3 separate regions of the Homo sapiens genome follow, and all the other regions are linked to region 2. The links come from fine-mapping of genetic effects on gene expression. A gene starts in region 2. Each other region holds a variant in brackets. All regions are shown on one strand. Distances are between the middles of the regions.

Region 1 (11,272 bases), 23 kb after region 2:
TTAAGCGATTCTCCTGCCTCAGCCTCCCGAGTAGCTGGGATTACAGGCACCCGCCACCATGCCCGGCTAATTTTTTGTATGTTTAGTAGAGGTGGGGTTTCTCCATGTTGGTCAGGCTAGTCTCGAACTCCCGGCCTCAGGTGGTCCGCCCGCCTCGGCCTCCCAAAGCGCTGGGATTACAGGTGTGAGCCACCGCGCCCGGCTGGTCTCAGCTTAAACATCACTTCCTTAGCGAGCCTTTCCTGGCTCCCTTCCCATCTTGACCTCCCTTTAATCTTTCTTTTCTTCTTTTTTTTGAGACACTGTCTCCCTCTGTCATCCAGGCTGTAGTGCAGTGGCGCAAGCGTGGCTCACTGCAGCCTCCTTGAATCGTTCTGATAGCACTCTGTATTTTTTCATCAGAGTCTTTCACAGGTGTTGTGTAATTATGTCTTTAATGTCTGCTTCCTTGATTAGACTGTAAGCTCCATGAAGGAAGAAGGGACCATTTCTGTTTTGTTCAACGCCACGTTGTAGTATCTAGCAATGCCTCTACATAGCTGACACTCAGTGTTTGTTGAATGAATGCATGAGCTGGCTCACCAGGCCATAGATTTGGCATGAAAGGTGTCTGGGAAGGTTTCTTAGGATAAACAGGAGAGACAGGCCTGGTGAAAAGTTGAGTGAACATGTTTGCTCCATCCTGCTGGTCAGGAAGTTCCCCTTCTGTCTCACCTGCGTCTCTTCAGCTGTAATTTATCCTGGGTTGGTCCTTGGTGGGGCCAGAGAATATCTGGTCTCCACCCTTTGGAGAGTAACCCTGTTCTTTCTCAGAGTGTGATTCAGACAGTCCTTCCTCCCCTTCCTGCTGGCCCCCCCCGCCCTCTACCTGTTCTTCCTACAGCTGACTCAGCTTCACACCCTCTCCCTCTCCTTCCAGGATCTCTTTTCCTGTCCCCTTGTCCTTCAGAGCTTTCCTTCCTAAGTTTTCTCTCATGGCCTGTCATTGGTCTTCTGGAATTCGAAATCATATGGGTACAGGTCACAAGTTTTCTTGGTCATGAAGCTTCTCTAGTCTCTTCCTTGGGTTTGTGGACACCTGACTCCCACAGAAGGAGGCTGGCAATAAGATATAATGATCTGTTTGTGCTGCAATTGAAAACCAGCAGCAAGAAGCCTTATTATTATCCAACCCCTCATTACTAGTGTTGTCCTCCTCCGTTAGCTTGGTATCTGCCAGCCTGAACGGGCCTGGCATCTCCTTTCTGCCCCCTCCCACTGCCATGCTGTGCCCTTCCTTGCTCTCTCTGGTGTCTGCTTCCCAGGGACTGGCCCTCCTCCCTGCCCCTGTCAGCCTGCCTCCGAGGCCACAGATCTGGTTTTCCTCCCTTCTGTCTCACCTGCCTTCCTCTCAATTCTACTTTTTATCTTGTTTCTTCTCTCCTGAACTGCCACACTTCACCCTAAATCCCAGTAACGCCAACAGTTTTGGTAAATCACTTTTTGCCACAGTTTTGCCTTGCTTTGTGGGAGCCAGTTTCTTCATAATGACTCTATGCAAATTTGTAGCATTTTATGGATTTTAAAATGTTTCCACATCGGTGAATTCTTGTGAAATGGGCCTGGGTAGATAAGGAAAAGAACCTCCAAGAGGTTAAGTGATTTGCGGATTTGCCTAAATTATACAGAAGAGTCAGAACCAGTGCCCAGGCCTTCTGATTCTTAGTGCAGTAAACACTAAGCACCATCATTCCATTTCACCACACTCCTGTCTTGCTGTTGTCCTCAGCTAAGAAAGCCTACCCCTGAGTTACCCTCTTCCATCTTAGAGCCTTCCTGCTCGCTGTCTGCCCCCCTGCGATGGGGACTTCTTTGGCCCTTCTCACCCAGCCCAGCCTCTGCCCGTTTCCTTCTCCTTTCCACTGCGCTGAGCTCTTTTCTCCTCCGAGAAGCCTTCCCTTCATCTCTCCTGGCCCCATTGTCTCCCGACCTCTTTGGGCCATTATTAGTGTTCCCGTGTGGTTTTTGCCAACCACGTAGGAATTCCCTGCCTTAAGAAAGTCCACTCTCGGGCCGTGCGTGGTGGCTCACGCCTGTAATCCCAGCACTTTAGGAGGCCAAGGTGGGTGGATCACCTGAGGTCAGGAGTTCAAGACCAGCCTGACCAACAAGGTAAACCCTGTCTCTACTAAAAATACAAAAATTAGCCGGGTGTGGTGGCTTGTGCCTGTAATCCCAACTACTTGGGAGGCTGGGACAGGAGAATCACTTGAATCGGGGAGGCAGAGGATGCGGTGAGCTGAGATCACCCCACTGCACTCCAGCCTGGGCAACAGAGTGAGACTCTGTCTCAAAAAAAAAAAAAAAAAAAAAAAAAAAACTAAGAAAGTCCACTCTCTGGTAAAACATTTACCAAGCATATAAATTATGAGGTGCTGATTCATATGACAAAAAGGAGATTCACTTTTAGTAGCTGCTCTAATGCATTCCACTTAAGTGAATATTCAAGGATTATTTTGGAAGGATGGAGATAATCCAAAACTAGTGTGAGAAACTGCTGCATTAAGGAAGGAGGGAGGTTTTTCTAGATAACTGCTGCATTAAGGAAGGAGGGAGGTTTTTCTTTTATTTCTGTATTCATTCATTCCACAGACAGGTATTGAGGGCAGCCCTGACCTCCAAGAACTTAGTCTAGCAGAGGAGACAGATAAGAGAATCAATCACAAAAATGTAATTGGTGTCACGAAAGAGTCAGTACAGGGTATTGTGGGAGGAGAGGATTGTGAGGGGCACTTCCTGGAGGTGACATTGTCTCAGTGGAGGTCGGGAGGCACAGGCACGAGGCATCCAGGTAAAGAGGAGGAGAGTGATGAACAGCATGTGGAGACCCAGGAGTGAGAAGGAACAGAGAGAAAGCCACTAGTTAGTGCAGTGTTCCTGCCCCTCTGCCTCATCCCCACACCAGCAAGAACCAAAAGGCACCAGCATGAGAATTGGCAAGGCTCCAGGTAAACCATAGCTGGGATATTCAGCTGTACAGCAGTCATATGTGAGCCTGAGGAAGAACCTGTTTGGCCCACAGAGGGAGACAGAATCTACTGGGTGGGGGGGGTGTGATTTGTGGGGGAGTGTGGTTGATGGGTGGAGTGTGTTTGGTGGGGGAGTGTGGTTTGTGGGGGAGTGTGGTTGGTGGGGGAGTGTGGTTGGTGGGGGAGTGTGGTTGGTGGGGGAGTGTGATTTGTGGGGGAGTGTGGTTGGTGGGGGAGTGTGGTTGTTGGGGGGAGTGTGGTTGAGGGGGAGTGTGGTTGGTGGGGAGTGTGGTTGGTGGAGGAGTGTGATTGATGGGGGAGTGTGGTTGGTGGGGGGAGTGTGGTTGGTGGGGAGAGTGTGGTTGAGGGGGAGTGTGGTTGGTGGGGGGAGTGTGGTTGATGGGGGGAGTGTGGTTGGTGGGGGAAGTGTGGTTGGGGGAGTGTGGTGGGGGGAGTGTGGTTGGTGGGGGAGTGTGGTTGGTGGGGGAGTGTGGTTGAGGGGGAGTGTGGTTGGTGGGGGGAGTGTGGTTGGTGGGGGGAGTGTGGTTGGTGAGGGAGTGTGGTTGGTGGGAAGAGTGTGGTTGGTGGGGGGAATGTGGTTGGTAGGTAGAGTGGTTGGTGGGGGAGTGTGGTTGGTGGGAAGAGTGTGGTTGGTGGGGGAGTGTGGTTGGTGGGAAGAGTGTGGTTGGGGGGAGTGTGGTTGGTGGGAAGAGTGTGGTTGGGGGAGTGTGGTTGGTGGAGTGTGGTTGAGGGGGAGTGTGGTTGGTGGGGGGAGTGTGGTTGGTGGGAAGAGTGTGGTTGGTGGGGGAGTGTGGTTGTTGCTGTGTGCCATCGGAAGGCTATGCAAGTTTGAGCGCTTGCTTCACCTTGACAAACATTTCACTTGTTAGAGCCCTGGCTTTCTCATCTGTGCTCTGAGCTAGTCATTCCTGCCAAGCTTCCCTGCAGGTTTAAGTGCAGATGCAGTCATGACTGTGAAAGCACCCTGTGAACTGTAAAGTCTGGGCAGTTGGGTGGTGGTAGGAGAGGCAGCAACTGTGAGAGGATGAACTTGATTCTGCTGATCTCGGACGGAAACTGATTCTTGGGAGAGAGACAGAATCAAACGGCTCTGACATTTGAAAAGCCATGGCCTCGCTTACCTACAGTGAGACTTGAGAAGAAGTGCTGGGGAGGTAAAGGCTGAGATACCACCTCCGCTGCCTGAAAGACTTTGCAAGATACTCCAGCTGGGGATAGGAGATGGCTAGAATGACCTCCAACTATCTTCACACCCGAGGCTGGGGCTGCCCTTCCAGGCCTGCAGTTCTGTATTTTCCCTTAGAAGGTTCTGGAGGCAGACGGAACCTCAGAAGCAAACGGTTTATTTTTTAGGTTTTTCAGTTTATTTTTAAATTTCTGACTGTGATGGTGTTTATTTTTTCCTTTTCCCTTTCCCCACTTCCCCGGCTCAGCATCAGAAAGGGACCATCTGTCCGTTGCCTTGCTGTGGCCATTTTAGAACCAGCGCAAGGCTGCTTGAATCTGGTCCCCTCTTCTCCCTCACTCCCTCCCCCACCACCTGGCTTTCTCTACTCTGCACTGCCTGCTTTCATCCAGCTCCCTCCAGGTGTCAGCTGCCACCTCTTATAGGCCTCCATCTGTGAAGACCTCCAGGCTGAGTCCAGCCACCAGACCAGGGCCCCTGTCTGAGGCAGCCAGATCTGTGGGGAACCTAGACATGGAGGCAGCAAAATTACCCTTTGAGAGGAGGAGGGGAATAAATTCCAGTCTCCTTGCTCCAGGCAGGGCCCCTCTGCTCTGACTGGTTTCTGATGAGAATGGTATGTGTATTCATGTATGTGTCATGTCCTGACTTGTTTCTGCCTCTGCATGTACCTGCAAGTCAGTGTGTGTGTGCATGCGTGTGTCTCACACATCCCTCTGGCATAGAGATCCATGAGTGATTTATAAACTGCCTTTCCTCCCATCACATAAATATTTTTCCTGGTTTCTTCGCCTTCCTTCTACTTCTAGAACTGGCCTGATTTCCTCCCCTCCAGTGCTTCATTCCCATAAAAACACTTCAAAACACAGGTAGCCATCGATAGACAGAGGACAAGTACTTCACGTTGTGGATTCAGAATAAAAAGATCCGGTTGAGTTCCACAGTGTGAGAGGCAGGGTTAGCAGAGTGGAGAGTCTGTTTCAGAGAGTAAGAAGCGCTGAGAAAAGGAGTTTTTTTGAAGGCTTCATTAAAAAGAGTCCAGGCTGGGCGCGGTGGCTCCCGCCTATAGTCCCAGCACTTTGGGAGGCCCAGGTGGGCAGATCACTTGAGGTCAGCAATTCGAGACCAGCCTGGCCAACATGGTGAAACCCCATCTCTACTAAAAATACAAAAGATTAGCCGGGCGTGGTGGTGGGCGCCTATAGTCCCAGCTATTACTATACTTAGGAAGCTGAGGCAGGAGAATTGCTTGAACCTAGAAGGGGAGGTTGCAGTGAGCTGAGATTGTGCCACCACACTCCTGTCTTAAAAAAAAAAAAAAGGCCAGGCATGGTGGCTCACACCTGTAATC[C/T]CAGCACTTTGGGAGGCTGAGGCAGGTGGATCACGAGGTCAGGAGATCAAGACCATCCTGGCTAACAAGGTGAAACCCCGTCTCTACTAAAAATACAAAAAATTAGCTGGGCGTGGTGGCGGGCGCCTGTAGTCCCAGCTACTCAGGAGGCTGAGGCAGGAGAATGGCGTGAACCTCGGAGGTGGAGCTTGCAGTGAGCTGAGATTGTGGCATTGCACTCCAGCCTGGGCGACAGAGCGAGACTCCATCTCAAAAAAAAAAAAAAAGGCCGGGCACAGTGGCTCATGCCTGTAATCCCAGCACTTTGGGAGGCCGAGGCGGGCGGATCATGAGGTCAGAAGGTTGAGACAGCAGTGAAACCCCATATCTACTAAACATACAAAAAATTAGCCGAGTGTGGTGGCAGGTGCCTGTAGTCCCAGCTACTCGGGAGGCTGAGGCAGGAGAATGGCGTGAACCTGGGAGGCGGAGGTTGCAGTGAGCCGAGATCGCGCCACTGCACTCCAGCCTGGGCGACAGAGCAAGACTCCGTCTCAAAAAAAAAAAAAAAAAAGAAAGAAACCCCATCTCTACTAAAAATACAAAAAAAATCAGCTGGATGTGGTAGCAGGCACCTGTAATCCCAGCTACTCAGGAGGCTGAGGCGGGAGAATCACTTGAACCTGGGAGATGGAAGTTGCAGTGAGCTGAGATCATGCCACTGCACTCCAGCCTGGGTGACAAAAGCGAGACTCTATCTCAAAAAAAAAAAAAAAGTCCAGTTGATGGTGGTATATCATGGACAGTAGGAAATTGATGAGGGTATCAGCCTGCCTTCTCTCTTCCTTTCATTTGCTCAGTGGAGAGATGCTGGTGACCCCTTCTCCTTCTCTCGCCATAGGAACATTTAATCTGTCTCATGCTTTGGCTTTGGGCCTGCCATTCACCCCAAGCACCTTGGGGTATAAGTGGGGATGATGCTGTCTACCTGCTTCCTAGTTGGCTCTGGGGTAAATGGAGACTTCTTCAGGCCTGGGAGGCCACCTCCCATTGAGAAAGGCAAGCATCTCGCGCTCTACTTACCCTCTGGGTCCTTGAGGGGCTGTGTCCAGTATCTCTGCTTGGGTAGGAAGGAGGTGATCTTATCAGACTTTTCCTGCCACTTCCCTGTCTCCAGCTCACACACCCACTCCCGTTTTCTCTCTCTTACGTACTCACACTCTCTTTTTTTTTTCTTTCCCTCCCCCGACATCTGAGAACTTTATCAGACACAGCTGCCGCACAGGGCCTGGCAGCGCGGGCTGGAGAGGGTGGTTCCATCCAAGGAGCCTCCGCAATGGGAACCTCCATGACGTGACAGATAGGTGGGAGATGAGGGCTGCTCCACAGGGGTATGGACAGGCCAAATCTTTATAAATATCTAATGAAGAGAAAATGACAACTCTAATTCATCCTTATACATAGAGTACTCAAGGGAGATGGGTGGGGCATCCAGGGGCCTGAGTCCTCACTGGTCGGGGACCTGGATGGGTGATGAGTAGGTTCAGATGTCCACAGCATGGGGCGGGAGGGGGCAAGGCCTGGCCAACAGACGATGAACACGAGGACACTGTACACTTAGAAGATCAACTACTGAGGGCCAGCTGCCCAGCACATGCGTGTCAGGCTGTTTGTTCCGGAATGAGGAGGGGTGGTCTTTACATCGTATTCTGTGACTGGTGGGTTTTGAGAGGGGCTGCTTTGTGGAGAGAATGAGCACCTTGGCAAAGATGAGGATCAGTATCATGCCTACAAATAGTCGGGGCTGCTGGGCAGTGCCACACTTGCCAGTGTCCCCCACGATGACGATGGCAAAGCCGGCTGCCAGGCCACTCAGGCCAGCGCCCAGCTGGAGGAAACTGCTATAGAGACTGTTGTCATCATTCAGGGAGTTGGCAGGGGGGACAGCCGCCACTAGGCCATAGATGGTGATGATACCAGCCATGACCACTGGGATGATGGACTTCATGTGGATCAGCTCTGGCCACATGACAGACATGGCCATGATGCCGGTGCCATTCTTGGCCATGCCACAGGCAGCACCCAGGCCACTGGAGACCATGGTGGCCATAGCACCCGAGATGGTGAAAACCAAAGCATACTCGGGGCTGTTGTTGGACATGTCTGTGAGTGGGGAGGGGGACAAGGATGGGCATGGCAGAGAGTGAGTGCAAAGACAGTGGACTAGTGGCAGCAAAGATGCTGGTTTTTTTTTTTTTTTTTTTTTTTTTTGAGATGGAGTGTCACTCTGTAGCCCAAGCTGGAATGCAATGGTGCGATCTCAGCTCACTTCAACCTCTGCCTCCAGGGCTCAAGCCATTCTCATGCCTCAGCCTCCCGAGTAGCTGGAACTATAGGCACGCACCACCATGCCCAGCTAATTTTTTGTATTTTTAGTAGAGATGGGGTTTCACCATGTTGCCCCGTATGGTCTCAAACTCCTGAGCTCAGGCAATCCGCCAGCCTTGGCATCCCAAAGTGCTGCGATTATAGGGGTGAGCCACCGCGCCCAGCCAAGATGCTCTTTCTTACCACACACACACCCTCCTATTTCTTTTCTTATGCACACACACAGACACACACACAGCCTTTAGCTACTCCTAATTGAAGGGTGCCTAAGACACCACCCTTCTGTCAGAATACTTGCCCCTACTTCCAAATCTCTGCCAGTACTGTATCCTTGTGGAACTTAACTTAAATTGTTGGGGAGACCCCATCTGTCCTTTGTCTCTCAGGCCCTTATCCCTTCCCCTGTGGTGGCTTCAGAATATCTCCTACAGATGGGGTTTAGGGTTAGTAATCTGGTGGTACTGGGGCTAAGGGATAGGTTTTAAAGCTCCATTTGCATAGCAGTCACTATTTTAACACTTAGATTGTTGGTGTTTTGGGGTGTCTTTAAGGGAGCTGATGAATTTATGGGAGGCTAAATATCCCCTCCCCCACTGGGTATAGCCACTGCCTTTGCCCCCCTCTTCCTCTCTGTGTGGGCCTTCTGGATTACAGGAAGAGCTCAGGAAAACAGGCCTATTGTTTTCATCTGGGAGGGGGGAGGGCCTCCCAGGCCAGCTCAGGCTCACTGTCCTTTGAACTGGTACCCGATAAACAGAGGCTCCAAGACGCTGGCAGCCTTGTTCTTCCAAGGCAAGGGAGTTATTTGGCTTGAGACTTTATTCTGTTCTGCCAGCTCTTGTTGGTTCCCTGTTTATTTTTTTTTAATTTAAATTTAATTTTTTTTTTTTTTTGAGACGAGGTCTTGCTCTGTTGCCCAGGCTGGAGTGCAGTGGTGCAGTCTCGGCTCACTGCAACCTCCGCCTCCCAGTCTCAAGTGATTCTCATGCCTTACCCTCCTGAGTAGCTGGGATTACAGGCATGCACTACCATGCCCAGCTAATTTTTGTATTTGTAATAGAGATGGGGTTTCACCATGTTGGCCAGACTTGGTTCCCTCTTTAGACCACAAGTTCCCATTCTCTTTCCCTAGTGTCCTATGAAATTCTCTTCTCCCGCTTCCGCATCTGTTTTTCTCTATCACAGGTTTCTCAGAATCTTTCTGGCTGCTGTATAGTCAGTCCTGGTATGGTTAGTAACAGCAGGAAGCCTGCCTTTTTGGAAGTACAAGGAGCTAGGAAAGGAGGGGTCTCTCCCAGACTAGAGAGGTCTTCTCCCCTAGCCTCACAGCTAGCTGACTCTGCCTTGTCCTCCCAACACCCGGGATTCCCCCCGGCCCCTCCCAACACCAGGCACCCGGGGCAGCCCCACCTCCTGCCCTGTTTCCTGTCAGGGGTAGGATGGCACCTTGCCTGGGTCTGGGAACAGCACTGGCTCTAGCAGCAGGACCTGCCGGGGCATATCTGAGTGAATAATCATTGCTGGGCTCGAAGCACAGGAGAGACCAGTCCTTCCTTGTCTCCACTGGGCTGTTTAGTGCTTCTTTCCCAAGGACTTCCATCCCTTCCCCAGGCTTTATGGTTCCAGTTCTTCTACCATTCTGGAAGCTCCCTAGAATCTCCTGGAATGCTTAATGGACCTTTCCAGCACCGAAATTCAAGAATTATGACTCATCGGTCAGCAGAAAAGTGAGGATACCTTTTCCTAACCTACCTGCTTCCCCTGCAGTTTCCTCACAATCTTACTCTTTATATTTTAGCATATGTAACTTCTCAGGATGTTAATTCTGTTCTCTCTGTGTTGGTGTCTGAGCACCCAGAAGGTAGAGCCAGGGGCACTTATAAACCAGGAGCATTATTTGACAGGCACTTAAGAAAGACACTGGCTACGTAATCCCAGCACTTTGGGAGGCTGAGGCGGATGGATCACATGAGGTCAGGAGTTCGAGACCAGCCTGGCCAACATGGTGAAACCCTGTCTCTACTAAAAATACAAAAATTAGCTGGGTGTGGTTGCACACGCCTGTAATCCCAGCTACCTGGGAGGCTGAGGCAGGAGAATCGCTTGAACTTGGGAGGCGGAGGTTGCAGTGAGCCTAGATTTTGCCATTGCACTCCAGCCTGGGTGACAAGAGCGAAACTCCATCTCAAAAAAAAAAAAAAAAAAAAAAAAAAAGATGCTGGCTAATATTGATAATAACAGTTTGCATTTGCTAAAGTACTTAAAAAAAAAACCTTTACCCCTCAAAGGGTTTCATCTACATGCAAAACCAACACCGTAGGAACTACTTTCCGCATGCGGAGCCGGGTACAGAGGGAAGGGGCGCGTCCGGGAACTACTTGCCGCATGCGGAGCGGGGTACAGAGGGAAGGGGCGCGTCCGGGAACTACTGGCCCCATGCGGAGCGGGGTACAGGGGGAAGGGTCGCGTCCGGGAACTACTTGCCGCATGCGGAGCGGGGTACAGAGGGAAGGGGCATGTCGTTAGAGGAGCTACTGTTAGTGGAATGAGGACGGGTAGCCAGAGTTCTCATCTGCCAGCTCCAGGCCACTTCCAAGAAATGTGACCCCCAAGCCTCTGGTGCTTGCCTCCTTCTGCTCATTCAGTCGTCCACCTCTTTCATTCTGGATTCCACCATGAGTCCAGGCCTCTCCTGCATTTCTAGATTTCCACGTGCTGATTGTGAGGGACTGACGGGGGTTTCACCTTCTCTCCTTTTCCTGGCCCCACAGCCTTGGCTCACGCTTCCTAGGCTCTGAGTTTCAGTTCGTGTCCCAGCCTCCCAACCGGACAGCGTTCTGGAAACAGTTTATGCATGAACTCTTGCATTTTCTCTTGGGAAATAATCAAACCCTTTGTTTCTAATCTCCTCTCAGTCTGTACTACTACTACTACACTAACATGACTTTGGTTTTGGGGAAAGGAAAGGAAAATGTCTGTTGATGCTGGGCCCCAGGCAGCACCGTGAGAGCTGCAACGGGCTCACATTTGCCCCTAGTTTTTCCTCCAGGTAGGAGCTGTGGGAGGAGTCCAGGGAGTCCCTTGAGGCTGAGCAGAGCAAAGAAGCAAGGGCTCAAGGCTGGTGTGTGCCTGGTTCTCCCCTGGTCAGTTCTAGGGAGCAGAGACCGTGGTGCAGGTGGAAGGACCACGGCGCTGTGTCCCTTAACTGTACAGCACCAGTGCGCGCCACGTGCTGGGGAGATGCCGAAGCCTTAGGGAGCAACTTCGGGAAGCTTTTGAAGCTGGGGAAACTAATACACTTGAAATAGTTAAAGGGGGATTTAAGGCAGAGGAGCAGAG
Region 2 (7,595 bases):
CCATGGTCTTGACTTTGAACTGCTACAGTGCCCACCCAGACAACAGATGCCTTCATTACTTTTTTTTTTTTTTTTTTGGGGATGGAGTCTCGCTCTGTCGCCCGGGCTGGAGTGCAGTGGCATGATCACAGCTCACTGCAACCTCCGCCTCCCGGGTTCAAGCAATTCCCCTGCCTCAGCCTCCCACCTAGCCGGGATTACAGGTGCACACCACCACGCCCAGCTAATTTTTGTATTTTTCATAGAGACAGGTTTTCACCATATTGGTCAGGCTGGTCTCGAACCCCTGACCTCAGGTGATCCACCCGCCTCAGCCTCCCAAAGTGCTGGGATTACAGGCATGGGCCACGGTGCCTGGCCACCTTCATTGCTTAAGTGTTAGTGATTTTCTTTCTTTTGTTTTTTTTTTAAGCGTTATTGATTTTCTAGTGGGTGCCAGGCCATGTGCTGAACAAGACTAATATTATTCCTGCTTTTAAGGAGATTCAAAAGACATTTACAATTCAAATCATTAAATGTTACCATGGACTAAAGCCAGGCAGCTAAAACAGAAGAACCAAACTTAGTCTTGGTGAGTCAAGGAACGCTTCATGGAGGAGGTGATTTAGACACGTAGGACAAAGCAAAGCACGGTAAGAATGGGCATGGTCAAGAGGCTAGGGAATATTCCAAAGAGAAAACAGAGTACATGCAAAGGTTGGGGGAGAGAAAGTTGAGTTCTGGGAAGTGAGTAGAGTATTTCAGTATGGCTGGAAAATGTGAGGTCTAATAGTTGAGTATTGAAAAGTAAGGCAGGCACTGAGCAGGGTGGTTCATGCCTATAATCCCAGCAACTCAAGAGCCTGAGGCAGGATTAACACTTGAGCCCAGGAGTTGGAGGCTGCCGTAAGCCATGATCGTGCCACTACACTCTAGCCTGGGTGATAGAGCAAGACCCCAACTCCTAAAGAAGCAAACCGTTAACAAAGAAAAAGAAGGCAAGAAAAGCCAGCAGAATCTTGAAGGGTCTTTGATGCCACACTTTGCCTTTTTTTTTTTTTTTTTTTTTTTTTTTTTTATGAGACAGAGTCTCACGCTGTCACCCAGGCGGGAGTGCAGTGGTGCAATCTCAGCTCACTGCAACCTCTGCCTCCTGGGTTCAAGCAATCCTCTTGCCTCAGCCTCCCAAGTAGCTGGGATTATAGGCACACCCCACCACGCCCGGCTAATTTTTTGTATTTTTAGTAGAGACGGCATTTCACCATGTTGGCCAGGCTGGTCTCGAACTCCCAATCTCAGGTGATCCACCTGCCTCAGCCTCCCAAAGTGCGGGGATTACAGGTGTGAGCCACCATGCCCAGCCAATCTGGTTTTTGTTTTGTTTTGAGATGGAGTTTCGCTCTTGTTGCCCAAGCTGGAGTGCAATGGCATGATCTCGGCTCACCACAACCTCCGCCTCCCAGATTCAAGAGATTCTCCTGCCCCGGCCTCCTAAGTAGCTGGGATTACAGGCATGCGCCACCACACACGGCCAATTTTGTATTTTTAGTAGAGACGGGGTTTCTCCATGTTTGTCAGGATGGTCTCGATCTCTTGACCTCGTGATCCACCTGCCTTGGCCTCCCAAAGTGCTGGGATTACAGGCGTGAGCCACCGTGCCTGGCCTTTTTTTTTTTTTTTTTTTTTTGAGACAGAGTCTCGCGCTGTTGCCCAGGCTGGAGTGCAGTCGCCTGCCTTGGCTTCCCCAAGTGCTGGGATTGCAGGCATGAGCCACCACGCCCGGCCAATTTTTTTTTTTTTTTTTTTTGAGACGGAGTCTTGCTCTGTCGCCCAGGCTGGAGTGCAGTGGCACGACCTCGGCTCACTGCAAGCTCCGCCTCCGGGGTTCACACCATTCTCCTGCCTCAGCCTCCGGAGTAGCTGGGACTACAGGCGCCCACCACCACGCCCGGCTAATTTTTTTTTGTATTTTTGGTAGAGACGGGGTTTCACCGTGTTAGCCAGGATGGTCTTGATCTCCTGACCTCGTGATCCTCCCGCCTCAGCCTCCCAAAGTGCTGGGATTACAGGCGTGAGCCACTGCACCCGGCTTTTTTTTTTTTTTTTTTTTTGAGACGTTGTCTTGCTCTGTCACCCAGGCTGGAGTGCAGTGGCACGTTCTCGGCTCACTGCAACCTCTGCCTCCCGGGTTCAAGCGATTCTTCTGCATCGGCATCCCGAATAGCTGGGATTACAGGCGCCTGCCACCATGCCCGGCTAATTTTTGTATTTTTAGTAGAGACATGGTTTCACCATGTTGTCCAGGCTGGTCTCAAACTCCTGACCTCAGGTGATCCACTCGTCTCGGCCTCCCCAAAAGTGCTGGGATTACAGGCGTGAGCCACTGCACCCGGCTTTTTTTTTTTTTTTTTTTTTGAGACGTTGTCTTGCTCTGTCACCCAGGCTGGAGTGCAGTGGCACGTTCTCGGCTCACTGCAACCTCTGCCTCCCGGGTTCAAGCGATTCTTCTGCATCGGCATCCCGAATAGCTGGGATTACAGGCGCCTGCCACCATGCCCGGCTAATTTTTGTATTTTTAGTAGAGACATGGTTTCACCATGTTGTCCAGGCTGGTCTCAAACTCCTGACCTCAGGTGATCCACTCGTCTCGGCCTCCCCAAAAGTGCTGGGATTACAGGCGCAAGCCACCGTGCCCGGCCAATTTTTTGTATTTTTAATAGAGACAGAGTTTCACTATGTCTGCGAGGCTTGGCCGGTTGTGGTGGTTCACGCCTGTAATCCCTGCACTTTGGGAGGCCAATGCAGGTGGATCACCTGAGACCAGGAGTTCGAGACCAGCCTGGCCAACATGATGAAACCCCGTCTCAACTGAAAATACAAAAAATTAGCTACGCGTGGTGGCGTGCACCTGTAATCCCAGCTACTCAGGAGGCTGAGATAGGAGAATTGCTTGAACCCGGGAGGCGGAGGTTGCAGTGAGCCAAGATTGTGCCACTGCACTCCAGCCTGGGCAACGAGAACAAAACTCTGTCTCCACCAAGGTGACATTTTCCACCCTGTGTCCTGTTCCCCAATAAAAACAAATTCACAAATTCACAAAAAAACTAAACTAAACTAAAACTGTCTAAAAAAAAAAAAAAAAAAAAAAAAACAAACAAAAAACCCCACCATGTTGGCCAGGCTGGCCTCCAACTCCTGTCCTCAAGGGATCCTGTAATCTCCGCATTTTGGGAGGCCGAGGCAGGCAGATCACTTGAGGCCAGGGGTTTGAGACCAGATTGGGCGACATGGCAAAGCCCCATCTCTACAAAACATATAAAAATCAGCCAGGTGTAGTGGCATGCGCTGCCTGTAGTCCTGGCTACTTGGGAGGCTGAGGTTGGAGGATAGCTTGAGCCCAGAAGCTTGAGGTTGCAGTGAGCAGAGATCATACCATTGTACTCCAGCCTGGGTGACAGAGCGAGACTTTGTCTTTAAAAAAAAAAAAATAGAGGCTGGGCACAGTGGCTGACGCCTGTAATCCCAGCACTTTGGGAGGCCGAGGCGGGCGGATCACGAGGTCATGAGATCGAGACCATCCTGGCTAACATGGTGAAACCCCGTCTCCACTAAAAATACAAAAAATTAGCCGGGCGAGGTGGCGGGCGCCTGTAGTCCCAGCTACTCAGGAGGCTGAGGCAGGAGAATGGCATGAACCCGGAAAGCGGAGCTTGCAGTGAGCTAAGATCGCACCACTGCACTCCAGCCTGGGCGACAGAGTGAGACTCTGTCTCAAAAAAAAAAAAAAAAAAAAAAAAATAGAATTGACTTGAAGGAGTCAGGCCGGAAGGCCAAATAGGAGATGAATGGGGATAGCGGCTTGAATAAGGGCAGTGGCAAGGAAAATGGGCTAGGGGTTAGGGAAGGGGGCCGACTGGCTGTGCACCCAAATGCTAAAAACGGTCCAGAAAGGAATGTGTTCAGCTATTTTTCAAGGACTTCTAAATTAAACTCTCTTAAATGATGTTTATATTAAGGCTGGTGGTGGAGTCTTTCAGAGGCAGTGTTGGTGCTAGAAGAGCTCTTGAGGATCATACAGCCTCCCCCCTCAATTTCACAGTGAAAGAAAACCTCAGAGAAGCAAAGCAACTTGCTCAAGGTCACACAGCATTTCAGTGGTAGAACATGACTCGTGGTTCTTAGATAGCATTACCCAGCCTCCACTGAGGCTAATGGCTGTAGGCGCTATGCCAACATGACTAGATCTAAGGTGACCCAAGCTATATTTTAAGGGACTGAACGCAGATTCCCTCTCTTCCCCTTCGCCACCCCTTCCTCCACGCGCGACTCCAGTGATCAATGAATAATTGTGGAAACAGTTCCTTTGTGCAGAACACTTTGTTAAAAGAGGTGCAGAGATACACGTCTGCGGTAGGATTCCTTATCCTGAGATCTGAGAGCACCTCGATGCTTCCCCAACCTGCTAGGTGAGGGTGGAAAGGGCATTCCTGAGGCAGCCGGTGCCCCTCCTCTGCCCCCCAACTCCCACGTGGTTTCTCCAGCCAAGTTCTCACGGAGTGGCCCCTCCCTCAGCGGCTCCACTGTTGCCATAGCAATTGGGTGGGTGGACAGCCCGTCCTATCTAGAGGCCACCCAGCCCTCGCGTGGGGAGTTACCATAACAACCCCCTAGTAATAGAGGGGGTTGGGTACCGCCCCCTTCCCCCGCAAATGGAAAGGTGGGTGGCTTGATTGGCAGCTGGGCACACGAAAGAAGGAGGGAAAGGGAAGGAAAGGCGTCAAAGGAGATCTGAGAAGGAAATAAGGGAGAGAAAGGGCAAAAAAAATAGGGAAAGAAAAGGAAACGCGTGTGCGCACGCGCACCAGCTGGTGGGCGCGCTCCGCGGCCGCCTCGGCCGCCGCCCACTTCTTTCACGCCAGGCTCGCGCGGTCGCTCCGTCCTCGCGCGCGCCTTTCGCCTGCTCGCCTGCGCCTGCGCGCAGGTGTCGGCGCCTAGGGGGAGGGGGCCCCGGCGCGCTCGCGTCACGCTCGCGCTTCCACCCTCCCAGTGCGCGGTCGCTCCGCGCCTGCGCAGGAGAGGTGGTAGGCTCGGGTGGCTGGCTCCGGGGAGATAGCGCCTGTCAGTCGGTGGGTCGGTCCTCGCGCCGGCCCTCCCCCTCCCCGGTCTCCGGGGGAGGCGCGGTGGAGTCCGCCCCCGGGGTTCTCCGATGGGGGAGAAGCGGCGACGGCGGCAGTGGAGTAACCGAGCCGGAGCGTGAGCGGCCCCGGTGCCCCGTTCCCCACGGAGGCCATGGGCGACCCAGCCCCCGCCCGCAGCCTGGACGACATCGACCTGTCCGCCCTGCGGGTGAGCGCGCCGTCCCCCAGCCTCGCCCTGGTTCCTGTCCCCGCCGCAGGGGAGGGAGCGGGGTGGCTGCACGCCTCACGTGCTCCCGGGCGCCCCCTCCACCAGCTTGGGTCCCCTTGGCGACCCGTGCCCCTTTCCCGGACTCCCGCCGCGGCTGGGCCCCCGCCCTCTGCTCCCTTCTCTCTCCACTGGCTGCAGATGCTGGGAGCCAGTTCGGTCCCCACCCTGTGGTGCCCCGCCCCCACACTTCCGTGCCACCCTACCTTTACTCTGGGGTTCGGGACCCACTGGTTCGCCTAAACTTAGCCTCCCCCATCACCTGGAGAACCTTTATTGTGGTTCCTTACCTCCTTTCGGCCCTTTTCCACCTTTGCCCTTACTTCTATCTTCTTCCTTCCCCTCCTCTTCCTCAGCTCCTGGAATTTTGACTTTGCAACTGTCTCGACAGCCTCTCTCTCATCCCTCTTTCTCTGCCTCGCCCACCCTTGAATTGCATCCTTTCCCTGGTCGGAATTTCAGCTACCCCACCCCTCGTGCCGTCACCCTCAATCCCATGTTCAGTTTTCCCTATCCCTTCTCTCCTGTTTCAAGTGCAGCAGTTCAGAACCAGGCATTTCCGGTCTCAGGGTCCCTGAATATTACATGACCAACTCTGCAGCAGCGTGGGGCTGGGAGCCCTCGGGGAGGAGGGGAGGCATTTCTTCTCTTTGGAAACTGTAGCACGGGCTGGGAAGAGGATGTTTACACACACACACACGCGCACACACGACACATGCTACATGTGGTCAGGCTGAAGGTTTGGAAAGGCAGTGGGTGTTTATGTTAGCTAAAGGCTGGAAGCAATGGAGACCTCTCAAGGTAGGGGCTAATAAGGAAAGGGGTTGAGAGGAAGCAAATGCTGCAGGAATTTCTTGGAAATACCCGTTCATTGTCCCTTGTGGGGCACTTACACACTCTGGTGGAAGAGCTTTCTGTAGCATTTATGTTTTTCTTCGGCAGGGAGCTTTGGCTTAAGGGGCAACTTAGTGATTTCAAGGTGAACACTCCAGACTATCAGCCAGGTGGTGTTTTGATCCTGTGCCCTTCCAGCGCTCTCACCAGGCCAAGGTGTGGGGAGAGCAGGACTTCCCATCTCTAGGTTCGCTTCTCTGGAGGCCCCTGCTCAGACTGTCTTCTGGCTTTTGAGTCAGCCAGGGAACATGGCCAGTAGTGGGAAAAGGCGGTCAGCCACACAGGTGCCCCGGATATGGCTGGAGGGGAGAGGGGAATTGAAGAGAGCAGAGTCATGTTGTTAATTGGGTTTCTCTAGGTGACACAGTTTTTTTTCTTCCCATTTTCAGGTCATAATTTGTTTGGTGCAATGTTGGGCTATGAGACCTGACTTGCTGGAGATAACGTGATAAATTTCTGGGGAGAGGGACTGAACGCTGAATTTCTCTGTGTGCGCAGGCACATGTGTGTGTGTTGATGAGGAGAGGGTCTGAAGGCTTTAGGAGGGAGATTCTTAAGGTCAGCTTGGCCAGGGTTTAAACTGGGATGCCCAAGTCGGGATATAAGATGGAAATCCAGATTCTGAGTAAAAGTCCCTTAATGTGCTCCATTCTGGGATGAACTTCCACCTTTCCTTCCTACCTTGGTTATTGATTAACTGGCTACAGGTTCCTGTGGCTGGGGTGACTAAAATACAATAAAAAATGGGTGGGTCAGGCCGGGCGAGGTGCTCACACCTGTAATCCCAGCACTTTGGGAGGCCGAGGTGGGGCATCACCTGAGGTCAGGAGTTCGGGACCAGCCTGGCCAACACTGTGAAACCCCATCCTTACTAAAAATACAAAAATTAGCCACACGTGGTGGCACACACCTGTGATCCCAGCTACTCAGGAGGCTGAGGCAGGAGAACTGCTTGAACTGGGGAGGTGGAGGTTGCAGTGAGCCAAGATTGCACCACTGCACTCCAGCTTGGGCGACAAAGCGAGACCTTGTCTTAAACAAAACAAAACAAAACAAAAAAACGGGGCGGGTCCAAACCACAACCTTTGCTTTGAACCTTGTGGGACTCTGCTTGGGTTTCTCTTTTAGCCTCTTTTGGTAGTTTGGCCTGGACCCTCAACCTGGGATTTCCAGCAATTCCACAAATACCCTCTGACCTTAGATGTGGTATTTCCCTTCTGGACTTCTCGGCTTGAAGCAATGTTAGCCTTCCTCAGTTGCCTCCAGCCTTACTCTCCTCTCCCCTCAGGAGACCGGGTGACCTGCTCCCAGTGCTTCTG
Region 3 (7,620 bases), 320 kb before region 2:
GGGCCAGAGTCCATCCAGTTCTGGGGGTGCCCTTGAGGTTACAGGCACCACTTCACCAAGAGCCTCAGAGGAGAGAGGCGCAGGTATCCTGGTAGACGCGACTTTGGATCTGCGCCCTAGAGGTGAGGCAGGTCTTAATGGCTAGAGAGGGATAGCCTAGGAAGAGGCACAGCTGTGGCCAGGGCTGGGCGGCCTACAGCCTGTGATGTGTGATTCCAGGGAACTCAGAGCAGCCTGGCCAGTGGTTTCCAATCACCTGGGCAGTGCGTTTATAGATTCTTAGGTCCCACATCTAGAAAGGGTGACTCTGCAGATTTGGGGAGGGCCCCAGGAAGCTGTATTTTAATAAGCACCTTCCCTAAAGGTGATTGGGATTCTCAGGCAGGTTTGGGGATCTTCCCAGTCTCTGCATTTACACAGGAAGAAATAGGGGTCCAGGGAGGTGAAAAGTCATGGCTAGCAGCATTTCCCTTTGCCTGGAGTCAGGGGCTGTATGTGTGTGCGGTGGGCACTGTGGTTGGGAGAAGAGCTGGCTTAGGGCCAGACCGTGGAGGCCTCAGATGCTAGAATTCTGGGCGGCAATGGGGCTGCTAAGTGTGAGTGGGCAGCCGTACCCACTGGGCCAATACTCGTAGAACAGCGCCTGGCACAAAGTAGTTGGTGGATATGTGTCAATATGTGCATTGTCGCTGTTGTTATTGGTACCATTACTGAGCCAGGGGTCTGGGCCAGTGGATCTTAAAGGACTGATGGACGACTCTGAGGCCAGAGGTCACCAGTGGGCCACAGCGTTAGCTCCTTGAGTCCAGGCACTGTCTCGGGGTCTCTAGAGGCCCAGACCAGGACTTAGAACTCAGTAGGAGATTCGTAAGAGCTTGTGAGATCAGGCAGCAGGAGGGATGCCGGCTGGCCGGCAGGGGCTGGAGGCAGGGAGTCCAGGGAGGAGGCTGGACGATAAAGCAGATGGAGAATCACCGGGGCCCATTCATGAGGTGGAGGGAGCCAAAGGGGTATCCTGGCTGACTCCCAGGGTCCTGCAGTGTCCTACAGGGTCCGCTCAGGGAATGGGGACCCAGTGGTGAGCTGAGGAATCAGTCAGGAGGCTGGGAAACAGGGATGAGAGCGTCCAGGGGTTGAGCCTCCAGGAGGTGGTTGGTTTCAGAGGAGGAAAGGAGGTGAGAATATTGACTTGGGAAGGGAAAGAACTCTCCAGAGTTCTTAGCCAAGTGTCGTGGTCCACGCCTGTGGTCCCAGCTACTCGGGAGGCTGAGGCAGGAGGATGGCTGGAGCCCAAAAGGCTGAGGCTGCAGTGAGCTGTGATTGTGCCACTGCACTTTAGCCTGGGTCAGAGAGCAAGACCCTGTCTCAAAACAACAACAAATGCTGTCACCTGTGAAAGGAGGAGAGGAAAGGAACAGCTGGCAGAGGGGACAAGTCAGAGCTGTTCTCACCACCAGGGTGAGGGAGGTGTGGGCGTGTTTGTGGGCTGCTGTGCAGGAGCCGGAAGCCAGGGAGAGGCTGAGTGCACGGGCCCAAGCCAAGGACTGACCCAGCGCAGCCTCCCTGCCAGGCGAGAGAGACTGTTGGCCCAGAGTAGGGGACGTTGGCCTCAGACAAGAGGTGAGACCTCCTGGGGCTTGGGAGGTACGTAACTTGTCAATGGATGTTGTTCCAGAATGTTTTCTTGGGTGATGAGAACCCTGTGGCTAGGAGACGATTCCAGCTGTGGATTTGGGGTATGCCTGGAGAGGCCTGCATTGTGGCTGTGTTGGCTGGGGTCTGCATCTGGGGTAGGAACCCCACTTTGCATGCACGCCTGGCGGGGTGGGCTTGGCCTGAGCTGTGGGAGGCTGCTCCTGGGCGTGAGGCCCATCCTGTGACCCACCAAACCTCAGCCTCCAGGAAAGAGGCTAAAAATAAGGCTGTGGTGAAGAAGGGAGGGGTGCGTGGGCCTGAGCCGTGCTGGAGCCCAAAGGAAAATCTGAGGCGACCCGCCGAGCTGCTGTGACACACGCTTCCCGTGCCAGCGGCCAGCGGGATCTCACCCTCCTGTGGCTGTGGCCGCCTCCAGGCCCGGAAGAGGGAAAGCAAGCCAGAAAGGTTCAGCCCAGGTCCGACCTTGGGCCTCGCAGCCTGCAGGAAGCCCTGCTCCCTGGGAAGGTTCTCTCTGGTCTTCTTCCTGGAGCTTGGACTTGGACCCAAGACTGGGCGCTGGGGAGTGGTGGGACGGGAGCAGGCCATGTTATCCAAAAGCTTCCTGTGTCCTGGGAACTGCCCAGGACTTCCCAGAGACCTTAGACGCCCATCTGGATGTGGAGGAATGTTCTCCCTCTACCAGGAGCTCTATGTGGTAGGAAGTCAGGGGAAGGCTTCCTGGAGGCAGAGGCAAATCCTGGACCTTGAAGTCATCGGATGGGGAAGTGTGCCGCTGGATAGCTGGATACTGCAGGGAGGAAGCGAGAGTGCTTTGATTTGCCGTGGACACAGGATGTCATCATGATGGCTATTTTGATATGGCCTCCCTCCCAGAAATGGAACCTGCAGTTACTGCAGACCCGTGTCCCTCCTCTGGACTATGGATGGGGACCCTCCTGCCTCCTCCTGACTCCGCCCATCCTCTTGTCCACCCGACACCAAAATCGTGACTGTCCCTGCTCTGAGTCCTGGAGATGACCGGCCACGGCTCCTGCCTGGCTTGTGGTCTAGTGGAGGATGAAGAAACATTCACCCACGTGTAAAGTCCCTGTGGGTTATGTGTGTGCTGGGCCCTGGAGGACACCAGCAAACCACGCAGAAGGCAGCGTGGCAGGAGAACGAGCTTTGGTTTTTGGCAATAGACCTCGTTTCAGATCTCACCTCCAAAACAGAATGTACTGTGTGACAAATTACTTCATGTCTCAGAGCCTCGGTTTCTTCCTATATAAAATGGGATGAGAATCATAAATACCAGCACAGATAGTGAGGACAGCGTCTGTACCATCTTCAAAGCCTCACGCAGTTCCTTGGAACTTAGCGGGAAGCGGTAACTAGCGGCTCTCAGCTCAGGAGGAGCTCATAGCTGTGCTTCTGTGTGCATTCCCTATAGAACCCACTCATCCTGGTAGGCCCAGTGCTAAAACGAGTTTGGACAGGGGAAGAGTGGGGGCAACTAACTTATTGAGGGTGGTGGGAGGGGAGCAAGCAGGGGAGATATTCCAGAACAGGAGGCATCTGAACTGGCCTTGAAGAAGTGGCAGGAGTGAGCCTGGTTGACGGAGTTGTACCAGAATAGAAGAGGAAGTGTGCAGAGTCAGGGGGCCATGAGTAGTTTGGGGTGGCTAGTGGAGGGGTGGTGTCCTGAGAAGTGAGGCCGGAGGGCGGGGCTGGCAGGGCCACACCTTCACCCTGTGAAGTGACTGTGCCACAGAGGGATGGGATCAAACCTACACATCAGGAGGGGGAACAGAGTCCTGACCCAGAAAGGAATGGGTTGTGGGGCTGTGAGCCTCTGGGGCTGGGTCAGGGCACCTCAGAGGTCCCTCTTGCTGGCTCTGCCATCCACAGGCCTAGGATTGGCCCCGGCTTCTACCTTCAAGGCAAAGCCACAGCCTCTGCCTTGGTTATTAAGTCATTAACTGGGCCTCACACAGCCTCTTCATTACGGGTAATTATGGTCAACCCACTCAGGGCATTAACAAGGAGGAAGACAGCTTCTCTGGCTGTCAGGCTGCTGGGACATCCGCCCGTCTGTCCTGCATTCCGGGAAATTGCTCAGGATTCCAACCTGGGTCTCGGAAGGGACAGTGACGTTCCAGCCTCCCCACTCCTTCCACACCCCCAGTCCCAGCTGCCAGCAGGATCCTCATACAGCACCTGGAGATTCCACTTTTTCCTACTTCCCTGTGGTGTGACTTTGAGCCCACAGCCTGACTTCCTATGCTCCAGTTTCCTCATCTGTCAACTTGGATCCTAGTACCAGCCTCCTAGGGCTGTGTGGGGATTATACAGGCATTTAATGCTCAGTTCGGCAAACCATCATCTGTTGAATGCTGCCATCATCATCGTCATCATGAAGAGCTCTGGAGTCCCCCAAAGGCTTCTGTCCCTGCCTGTAAGGCCCCCAAAGGCAGGGCCATCTCCTCTTCCTTCTTCCGCTGTCCCTTCTCACTGCAGATGTGCTATGGTCAGCGGGGCTCTGGCCTGTGCCCTGGGTCCTCCTGTCCTCACAGATAATGCAGGCAGGGACCCTGAGGCCCACGGGGATGGGGGTTGTGCTTACTCAGGAGCCCTGGCTGAGTGCTGCGAGGGGTAGGAGGTCCAAGATCCTGCCTGTCCCCCAGAAGCCATGGCTCTGCCAGTCTGCTGGGGCTGTGGGTGGTTTCTGGGTGGTCCAGCTGCTGCCCCCACCCCGTGACGTGCAAAGCCCTAAAGTAGTTGGGCTTGGAAGCGGGTGTGGCCTCAAGAAATCCACTTCTCCCAAGAAAACGGGCCTGGAGCCCCGCCTGCTTCCCTCTGTACCCTGGGCCAGAATCTGAAAATGGAGGGGCCCGGTTATAATCCTGAGGGCAGCTGGGGTGACAGTGTGTGTGTGTGCGTGCGCGCGCACGGGTATGTGTGTGCGCGCGTGGGTGTGTATGCATGTGTGCAGGTGTGTGCACACACGTGCGTGCGTGTGCAGGTGTGTGTGTGCATGTACAGGTGTGTGCGTGTGTGTGCGAATGTGGTTGTGCACATGTGCAGGTGAACCAGAGTGAGCGGCTGCCCCTCCCAGGCCAGAGGGCTCCCCGCAGCTTTCAGGGCCCCCGCTGCTCTCTGAGTCATGGGCTTTGTGTTCCCCCTGAGGGAAAGGCCTATGTCTATTGCACTGATCCACGGCCTGGGCCGCAGGTAGGGAAGAGGCCCAAGCTGGCAGATAGGAGGTGTGGTTGCCCATGGGGCAGAATGACCGCAGAGGAGCCCTGCCTTTCCCTGCCCCTCGGGTCCTTGTGAGTGATGGGAACAGGCTGAGGACAGGAGGTCCCCGGGGAGGCAGGAGGGAAGCCTGGGAAACCTGGGCAGGGTAGAGGTCGCAGCAGAGCAGGAGTGCCGCAGATATGGCCAGGCTGGGCCCTGCAAGGCGGGAAAGAGGCTGGGCTGGTCTGTGGGGACACCAGCCATCAGACTCGGCCAGTGAGCACCCTCTGTCTTCCCTCCAGGCGTCCTTCTGGACATCCAGCAGCACTTTGGGGTCAAGGACCGAGGCGCCGGCCTGCTGCAGTCAGGTGAGGCCCACCTCCCACCTTCCCCCCCAC[G/A]CCCAGGCGTTGGCGTCGTGGGTCCTGTCCTGTTGGTCGTCATCTGCCACCCGGTCTGTCTTCCCCTGTCCTGACTCCTGGAAAGAGAGTGGGCTTTGCATCCCAGTCTCACTATTGCCACCTGCCAATGGCACTGCTTCTCTGAGCCTCTGCTGCTTTTCTTGTGTAACAAAATGAATAATACCTGCCCTGAGGGGCTATGGCAGGTAAAGGAGAGTGCAGGCAGAGGTTGCAGAGGTGAACTTTCTCTGGGTCCTGGGGCCTCATCGGGACCCAGTGATCCAGGCTCCCTCCTGAGGCTGGTGCAGGGAGCTCCTTAATTCAGTAAGTTGGGCAATGCCAGCAGAGCCGTGGTGACCCTGTTTTTATCTCCTGCCCTCCCCCACATTCCTTCCAATATCATCAACCCTGGGAATCGCCTCTTAGGTGACGAAGCAAAAAACTCCAGCTAGTCAGCCCCAGAGCGGTTCCCAAGCCCGGGGCAGGCGCCTGAGAATCTGGGCCCTGGACTGGACGTGGGCCTGAGGTTCCCTACCACCCTCTCCCCTGGGGCCCAGGCTTCTGATGGGCTGCCAGAGCAGGGCCTGAGCCCCCAGGCTGCTGGAAGCTGGGCCGGGACAGTGTGGGAGGCCATTAAGCACTTATGGCAGCCCACCAGCCCCTCCCTCCAGGGAGCGTGCCTCCCTTGTCCCTGCCTTCCCCATGACATGGCCCTGTGGGAGCTGGGCCCTTGGCTCCCTGGCCTTCCCACTGGCTGAGGCCATGTTGGCGATGCTCTTAGCAGCAACCTTCAGGCCTGGGCAGAGACTAAGGCCAGTGCTGCCACTCAGGGCTTGGGGCGGGAGGCCTGGTCCTGACTCTGCCCTAGTCATGCTGTGTGGCCCCAGCCTGGATCCTGCTTTCTCTGGGCCCTTGGCCCTGGAGTCCATCTGGCTGTGAGCCCCCGTCAGATGCAGGATGAGGTCCCCATGGTCTGCATTCCAGTCCAGTCGGTGAACCCCTTCCCCTGCCTGGGCCCTCCTGGGAGGGAGGGGGTGGAGTGAGCTCGTTCTGTCCAGGAACCTGCCTGACCTGTCTAAGTGGCATTCCAGTACTCACAATCCCTCCCGAGCTCACAGAATGCCACAGCCACTCCCCCCACCTCCCTTCCTAGCTGTCCTTACAGCCCAGATGGGGACTTTGGGGCTCAGAGAGAGGGGTTGCGATGGTTCTCAGGCTCAAGTGAGACTTGACTGTTCTAGGATGGGGCAGGGCCGTGCGGTCCAGTATCCCCTATAGGTGGCCAGGTCCCTGCCCTGGCAGACATCATGTTTTCCCAGGCCATGAGCCCAACGCCTCCCCTACCCCTTCCTGGGTCTCCCTGGCTAGGCCAGAATAAGTCTGCCTGCCCTGCCGCCTGAGACAGGTTCCTCTAGCCCTCTGGGCTGTGTGCATGCAGTGACCAGCACTGCAGCTGGGAAATGGAGTTCCAGCCACATGGGCGCATGGGAAGGAGTGGGCTGCCAGGCTGGCAAGGAAAGGGTGGGAGAAGGCCTAGCTGCCCAACCCCCGCCCTGTGTGGCCCCTGACTCACTGGGGACCTGGCCCGAGCCTCATCCCCCTCCTGGTCCCGGCCTCACTGCCTCATCTGGAGCAAGGCTCTACCCCACGCATCCTCCATTTAATGACCACTGAGCATGGTCGGGGCCAGCACAGCCCAGGGAGGGGGCGGGAGGTACAGGGAATGGTGGGGAGGGTCACAGGCCGGGCAGGGGGTTGGGGGCTCGGCTCAAGGCAGGTGTGAGGGTTCCCTGGTTCTTTCTGCGGTTCTGTCCCAGGCTGGCTTCTCGGGCTCATGAAAGAGAAGTCACTCCGTCCCTCCTCATCCCGGTGGCCTGGCTGGAGGTGGACAAAGCACACACAGGCATTGTCTTGTTTCATTCTTCCAGTAACCCTACGGGCTCTGTTTGTCAGCTGCACTTACCAGATACAGGGACAAAGGCCCAAGACAGGGAAATGGCTTGCTTGAGGGCTGGCAGTGGAGAGCAGCCGGCCTGGAATAGGGACCTGGGCCTCTGCCTCTGCTGCCCATAGGCTGGGGGGGAGCCTGGATACCTGGCATCTCAGTGTCCCCAGGGCGGGTGCCTCTGGGCCATGGTGAGAATTGCCAGCATTCTGAGGGACCCTCTAGTCTGTACACCATGGCCCTCACCTGTCACCTACCCCGGCACAGCTAGGATGGCTCCCCAGGGTGCCCTCACCCCTTTGGCCACCTAAGCCAAGAAGCCAGTCGAGTAGACCATGATGTTACTCAGTGGACAACTAGGCAAGTCACATAATTGGCCTGTGTCCCAGGCACCTGTGCCTTCCC

Direction of the effects. Positions count from the first base shown, and alleles are read on the strand shown. Sizes are in standard deviations (SD) of each study's normalised expression. Not every link is listed here.
As copies of G replace A in region 3, the expression in thyroid of the gene that starts at base 5,025 in region 2 goes up (small effect, 0.11 SD a copy in GTEx).

What was found.
Region 1: its variant is fine-mapped to the expression of MINK1 in whole blood (GTEx, PIP 0.98).
Region 3: its variant is fine-mapped to the expression of MINK1 in thyroid (GTEx, PIP 0.92).

What each region holds. Positions count from the first base shown.
Region 1 is chr17:4,849,669-4,860,940 of GRCh38, forward strand. The region is part of intron 1 of MINK1 (misshapen like kinase 1); the gene reads left to right. It also overlaps the pseudogene ATP6V0CP1. Among named protein-coding and RNA genes, the nearest start is that of MINK1, 22 kb to the left of the region's middle. RefSeq lists enhancers at 1-711, 4,178-5,129 and a silencer at 10,186-10,480. The variant C/T (reference allele first, on the strand shown) is at 5,567.
Region 2 is chr17:4,828,316-4,835,910 of GRCh38, forward strand. MINK1 (misshapen like kinase 1) reads left to right here and starts at 5,025. Exons shown (of 32, transcript NM_153827.5): 1 at 5,025-5,325. The coding sequence starts at 5,269. RefSeq lists an enhancer at 4,082-4,868 and silencers at 4,846-5,315, 5,326-5,575.
Region 3 is chr17:4,508,073-4,515,692 of GRCh38, forward strand. SPNS2 (SPNS lysolipid transporter 2, sphingosine-1-phosphate) reads left to right here. Exons shown (of 13, transcript NM_001124758.3): 2 at 5,175-5,240. Among named protein-coding and RNA genes, the nearest start is that of SPNS2, 13 kb to the left of the region's middle. RefSeq lists enhancers at 1,374-1,433, 4,127-4,773, 6,130-6,787. The variant G/A (reference allele first, on the strand shown) is at 5,271.